2 linked regions of the Homo sapiens genome follow. The protein of the gene in region 2 purifies or fractionates together with the protein of the main gene of each other region. This does not show direct contact. Each region holds a gene or a part of one and is shown on either strand. Other genes may lie near its edges.

The links. Proteins that work in one complex are often made in the same cells at the same time.
Region 1: the proteins of HNF4A (region 2) and BMAL1 purify together in Homo sapiens (co-immunoprecipitation; one study listed by IntAct). This does not show direct contact.

What each region holds. Positions count from the first base shown.
Region 1 is NC_000011.10:13,284,290-13,287,789, forward strand, and holds part of BMAL1 (basic helix-loop-helix ARNT-like protein 1), read left to right. Parts: intron 1-3,500. UniProt on the Homo sapiens protein: Transcriptional activator which forms a core component of the circadian clock.
Region 2 is NC_000020.11:44,362,199-44,365,698, forward strand, and holds part of HNF4A (hepatocyte nuclear factor 4-alpha), read left to right. Parts: intron 1-3,500. UniProt on the Homo sapiens protein: Transcriptional regulator which controls the expression of hepatic genes during the transition of endodermal cells to hepatic progenitor cells, facilitating the recruitment of RNA pol II to the promoters of target genes. Activates the transcription of CYP2C38.

The DNA.
Region 1 (3,500 bases), on a different chromosome or scaffold from region 2:
TCCCCAAATACATTTAGATAGTAAGGGACACATTGTTTTATGTCAAGAACCTGTTACATAAAAATGTGTTATATAATGTTCAAATATATACTGCACAGTGAAATTAGATACCACTTTTTTTTTTTCAAAGAATAAAAGGATAATAAACACAGGCCGTCCTGAATATAATTAACCTCAGATTTGGGAGGCATGGAAGGACGTGCCCTGCCCTCAGAGCTCTCGTCCTGAGCTCTGCCTTTCTTGAGTGCGCCGGGAGCAGGATGGATGGGAAGTTGGCCTGAATCTGCCATGGTGTGGTACTGTGAGATGCTCTGGAAATTGTCTTTTTTTTTTGGCGGGGGGTGGGGGATGCCTTCGCATCTTGCTCACTTGTATCTTTCTCACACCTAAGCAGAGGGAAGAAGCTCTTTTTGCCCCCTCGTACTTAGACCACCCAGGTCATCTTTTGACCAGTTTTCTGCTCTGCTCAACTCCTTTCAATCTTCCCAGATGACAGGCCAGCTTTGCCTGCTAAGAACAGCCCTGGTGCCAGTGGCATGCAGGTGGCACCCCTGTGTCCAGTCTTCCAGGCTCTCCAGGGTCTGGTCCTGTTCCTCCTCCCCAGCCCTGCTTCCCCGCTCAACCTCCATTCCCAGCCACAGCCCTGTGCCCGAGGTTCAGTCCTCCTTGCCTCTCCGCTGTCCTCCCTAGGCCACCTCACTTCACACTCTCCCTCTGGCTAGCGGGGTCTTTGCTTAAATTGTTCCCTTGAGGCCTCTCTTCCTTGCCCGTGCCTGCCTTGGATCTCACTTCTCTGTGAGGTACCTCTGATAACATTTGTTCCCTTTGTGTGTGCTCTCCCTTTTGCTCTTGATTGCCAACCATTCATTCGTTCAGAAGCAGGGGTATGTCATAATGAGCAAATTACCATATCATACTGAATCAGGATGGCCAGTTGTCTCATTTTTTAATTGTTTCATGGTTAATTATCTTACGCTCACTTCCCACTCTCCAGTTTCACTCAGTTACTCCGTCAGTGAAGTTTATTGGATGCCTAGCACTGTTGTGGGCACTGAGGATACAGCAGTGAACAAAACAAGGGGCCCGCAGGAGGGGACAGATGATGAATAGTGAAACACGTTCATGCCTTGTTGTGAGAAGTGCTAGGAGTGCTAGGATAGCAAGCAAATAGAGTAAAGCAGTAGCGATGAGGTATGGTGGGAGGGAGGGTACCTTATCTAGATCACAGGGGAGACCTCTCTGAGGAGGTGACATTTGAACTTAGCTTCAGAAAGATCTGGGGGAAAGTATCCCAGGAAGAGAGAACAGCACATGTAAAGGCCCTGGGGTTGAAAGGTGCTTGATATTTTTGAGGAAAGTAAAGGCTAGTGTGACTCGATTATGAGCTGCTTGTGTACAGATGTTTTCTGCCTCTTTTATACTCCCTTTAACCCTGAGCCCAGTGTTAGGAAGGCCTTGTAAATACTTACATACAGAATTATAGCATTTGTCATTGGTTATATATTATAAAATAGTAATTTTATAAAATAATAATTTATCATACCCTGCTTAGAAGGCTTTTAATAAAACATTATATTGCATATAAACAAATTAAGGGTTTGAAGGGTTTTCTTATAAATGCACTCCTAGCATGTTTCACCAAATATTACTGTTTTAATTGTGTTTAGTGCAGAACTTTAGACCTCATAATTCTGCTTCATGTGCACAACCATCTTAAAAACAGGTTTTGTTCCAAAAGTTTATTTGTAAGGCACTAGGTGGAAACTTGGGATAAATTTTTCTATAAGAAACAATGAAGTAAATAGTGATGTAGTTTCTAGGCGAGCCCTCAAAAGCTATTTAGTGGTGACTGTAGCTGAAAACATACTGGTTGGTATCAGCAGTCGTCAAGCCTTCTGCTGGTAGACCCTCCTCTCAGTAGCATTGTACCTCATTTGCTGTTAGCAATCATAGGACCCATTTACCTCAGTCACTTCTCCTACTGTATTTTCAGTCTGTTAAAGTTTTATAGAAGGGATTTTTTACCTTTATACCTTTAAGATTTGGTTGCATGTGTTATAAATGAGACAGTAGTGCAGAGAGTGGGGAAAACTCTGGACTGGGAGCTGGGAGAGGCCTGGGCTCCAGACTGGGCCCAGCCACTGACTGGCTGAGTAAATTTGAGTAAGTTATCCTCTTTGAACTTTGATTTCTCAGGTTCTTCTTGGCTGTAAAATCCTATTGTTTTCTCACCATAGCAGGGAAACGTAGATATACTTCGTTGTTCAAACCTGCCCTCAAATGGCTGCCTCTGATTTCTTCTTGAAGAAGTATATGGCACTCAGCAATGAGGAACTCAAGCAGTTCCCCATGTGCAGAGCTCTGCAGTGACATTCTCAGTAGGAACCTTGATTTTGATCTGCTATCTTTCTTGATGAGTTGAAAGAAATTTTGTCCCAGAACTTTTGGTCCAGATAAGATTTCTGTGTTCTTGGCCAACTTATCTTCCATATAATTATGTAAATTGTTTTTTCTTTTTAACTCTTAGGGATAAAAATGGTGACTCTGGCTTGCCTGCTTATAAAATATAGTTATAAGTGCCCTTAGGGAATGGAATGAGTTTGCAGGAGAGAGCAGAGCTGAAAGAGTGTGGGATCAAAAACAACTTTAAATGTTAAATGCAAAGCTATTTTCAGTACCCTGCTGGAAGAAAAAATTTTTTTCAAGGTTTTAGAGGATAGAAGAGGTTTTTGCTCCAAAGAAGAAAGGAACCTAAGGTTTTGCAGTGGTGAAAAGTACCTGATCCTTTAACCAACTACCACCCTCCCTTCCCACCTCTGAGTTTTGTTTTCGACATCATGAACCACATTTGCCATTTGAGAGGTTTGATATTTAAGTGACGTTAGTGGCAGAGCTCAACTGGCAGTGTTCAAATGACTTAGGTGCAGAGTGCTGTGCTGCAAACTTCCCCAGTGCATTCTAGGGTAAGGGATGCCTCATAGAGAGTGACAGAGCACTTTTAGCTCTGCCTCTATTTGGTCAGTTGTGAATGGTGTGTTCCTTTTTTTCCTTACTTGAAGGCATAGCGAGGAGTTGGTACAAGAAGTTATTGCTTCATGGACTTCACTTTGGAGCTAGAGGGTGGCATTAGACCTAGCCTGCCTTCTTGGATGCTGGAATACCAGTGGCAATGTCATCTCTTGTTCTCTGCTATACCCCTAGCAATGAAAACAGTGTCTGTACAGAAAAGTCTCTCAATAAATACTTGTTTATTCCTTCAAAAAGTGAATTCAGCTTTGGATAAATTTTTAATTTCCTCCACTCTCTAGCAGTATAGGCTTATGAGGTTGGTCTTGCAAGGTACTTTGGAGTTTAGGTTGCCATTTCTTTTTGACATCTGTGTTTTTCTTATTCTTCAGGTTGGTCAGGTATCAGTGTCTTTTACTGATGATGGTTGTCCCTGCCCTGCTGATGTTCATCTTCTGTTATCTTTAATTGGCTCCAAACTGCAGCAAATCTAT
Region 2 (3,500 bases):
CACTTGAGGTCAGGAGTTCCAGACCAGCCTAGTCAACATGGTGAAACCCTGTCTCTACTAAGCATACAAAAATTAGCTGGACGTGGTGCCAGGCGCCTGTAATCCCAGCTACTCGGGAGGCTGAGGCAGGAGAATCACTTGAACGCAGGTGGTGGAGGTTGCAGTGAGCCGAGGTTGTACCACTGCACTCCAACCTGGGCAACAGAGGGAAACTTGTCTTAAAAAAAAAAAAAAAAAAAAAAAGCATGCTGAGATGCTTAAGTGAAGGAATTGTGCCTTCCATTTTTCCTGACTCATATGCCTGTAGCATAAGGATGGGTCAATGATAACGAAAGGAATTTGTTTTCATTTAAGCCCCTTTTATGTAATGGGCAAGATGTTGGCTATTTGATATGTTTTCTCCCTTTTAAGCCTTGCAATAACCCATCCAAGTAGGAAATATTATCTCCATTTTATAAACAAAGAAATTGAGATTCAGAGTTGTTAAGTCACGTTTCCCTGCATCGCCTTGCAAATAGGTGATTAAAATCTAGTCTGACACCAAATCTTCATTCTTTCAGCTATTATGTCATAATAGCATCCAAGGAGTTTACCACCTTCTACCACCTACTAGCTGTGTGACCTTGAGTGAATGACTCAATTCTCTTTTTTTTTTTTTTTTGAGACGGAGTCTTGCTCTGCTGCCCAGGCTGGAGTGCAATGGTATGATCCTGGCTCACTGCAACCTCTGCCTCCTGGGTTCAAACAATTCTCCTGCCTCAGCCTCCTGAGTAGCTGGGATTGTAGCTGGGGTTACAAGCGCCTGCCACCATGCCTGGCTAATTTTTTTTTATTTTTAGTAGAGATGGGGTTTCACCATGTTCGCCAGGCTAGTTTTGAACTCCTGACCTCAAGTGATCTGCCCGCCTCGGCCTCCCAAAGTGCTGGGATTACAGGCCTGAGCCACTGCGCCCGGCCGACCCAATCTTTTTTGCCTCAGTTTCCTCATCTGTCAAATGGGGTTGATGATAATACCATTTACTTCACAGGGTTGTTGTGAGACATAAAGTCAATATTTGTAAAGTGCTGAGTGTCTAGCACATAGAAAGTGCTATGTGAATTTGAACGATTATTATTATTATACCTATAGTGTGTGCATCTACTATATGCAAAGGACTGGATGCTTACTAGGTGTTAGCATCATTTTGGCTGTTGTAGAAACAACAGAGATGAGTAAGGAATAGATAACTGGTCCCAGGATGCAACTGTCTCTGGCTGGAGACTAAGGACAAGGCTTTGTTGCAAGCCTTCTGGGGCCCTGGGATGCCCAGGGTCTCCTCTTGGGGGTGCTGGTTCATAGATGGGGGCCTGTGTGGCTCCTTCACAGAGGAGGAGGCAGATGAGAGGCATAGAAAGGGAGGGGACAGACCTATCCTCATCAGAGACCTGGGAGATGGCTCTGGCCCTGGCCCTGGGTAGCTGTTTGTGACCTCACTCAAGTCCTTCTCCTGCTGTTTCTCCATCTACTCTTTTTTTTTTTTTTTTTTTTTTGAGACAGAGTCTCAATGTCACCCAGTGGCTCTATCTCTGCTCACTGTAACCTCCACCTCCTGGGTTCAAGCAATTCTCATGCCTCAGCCTCCCAAGTAGCTGGGATTGCACGTGTGTGCCACCACACCTGACAAATTTTTGTAGTCTTGGTAGAGATGGGTTTCACCATGTTGGCTAGGCTGGACTCCTGGCCTCTTGTGATCCTCCCACCTCGGCCTCCCAAAGTGCTGGGATTACAGGTGTAAGCCACAGCACCCAGCCTCCATTTCCTCTTTTGAGAAATGGAGGTATGACAACCATCTGGCTCAGCCATTGTCACACAGTATTCCCTGGGTCCTAAGAGTCAGGAAAGATGCTGCAGGGTTCCCTTTGAGGGTAATGTGGGTAGGGACGTGTTCAAATGGACTAGGGCTTAGCCTCTCCCCACCCTTCAACCTCTGGCTCCATCAGAGACACTTCTTTTTGACTTTTGTATATTTCTTTTTATTTTATTTTAGAGACAGGGGTCTCGCTATGTTGCCCAGGCTAGCCTCAAACTCCTGGGCTCAAGCAATCCTCCCGCCTCAGCCTCCCAGCCCCTGGGATTACCTGCTCATGCCACTGCACCCGGCACTCTGTTTTGACTTTTAAATGAAATATTTAATGGAGGGTCTCCACAGTTCAAAAATATTTGGAAAATCAGAAGACCACACCAGTGTGTTTCAAACTGCAATCTTAACCCAGGAATAGGTCATGCAATTTTTTTTTTATTTTTTTTTTCTAGATGGAGTCTTGCTCTGTCACCCAGGCTGGAGTGCAGCGGCACGATCTTGGCTCACTGCAACCTCCGCCTCCTGGGTTCAAGCAATTCTCTGCCTCAGCTTCCTGAGTAGCTGGGATTACAGGTGCCCACCACCGCGGCCAGCTACTTTTTGTATTTTTACTAGAGACGGACTTTCACCATCTTGGCCAGGCTGGTCTTGAACTCCTGACCTCGTGATCCACCTGCCCCGACCTCCCAAAGTGCTGGGGTTACAGGTGTGAGCCACCGTGCCCAGCCGGTCCTTCAATTTATTGGGATTATATTAGTTCAGACAATATAGCTTATGTAACAAGCAAATGCAGACTTTAAGTTAGAAGTTTATTGACCTCTGTGGCATAGTCATCCAGGGACCCCTAAGGTCACCCTAGCCCAGAAAGACACTTTCACTTCTACTCACATTCCATTGGTGAGAACTAGTCACATGGCCCTTGCCAAATGCAAGGGGGTCTGGAAGATGTGGTCCCTAGCGGGGCGGGACTAGCTGTAAAGTTTGTAAAGGGGAGCGTGAATTAGTTGGTACACAGTTGATCGTCTGTGCAGTAGGGTCATGCTCACACGTCCCTCCACACACACACGTTAAATATGTATAACAAGTGTAAATATACAATTTAAAAAAGTATCTTTTTTTTTTGGTTTGTTTTTGTTTTGTTGTTGTTTTTGAAACAGGGTCTTGCTCTGTCATGTGGGCTACAGTGAGCCACAATCATGGTTCACTGCAGCCTCAACCTCCCAAGCTCAAGCAATCCTTCCATCTAAGCCTCCCAAGTAGCTGGGACCACAGGTGCATGCCACCATGCCCAGCTAATTTTTTATTTTTATTTTTTTGTAGTGACAGGTCTTGCTGTGTTGCACAGGCTGGTTTCCTACTCCTGTCCTCAATCTTCCTGCATCAGCCTCCCAAAATGCCGGGATTACAGGTGTGAGCTACTGCACCTGGCCTTTACAATTTTTTACATAAAATGTTTCAATAAAAAAGTGCATAGATAGATACAGAGATAGCAATAAAGCAAATGTGACAGAATGCAACCAGTTGGTGAATTTAGGCGAAGGGATACATCAGTGCTCACTATACTAGTCTTTCAAACTTTAAAGTTTGAAATTTTTCAAAGTAAAATATTGGAGAAAATGAAATTCTTAAAATTTACTAGACCTATAAGTAGACTAAAAC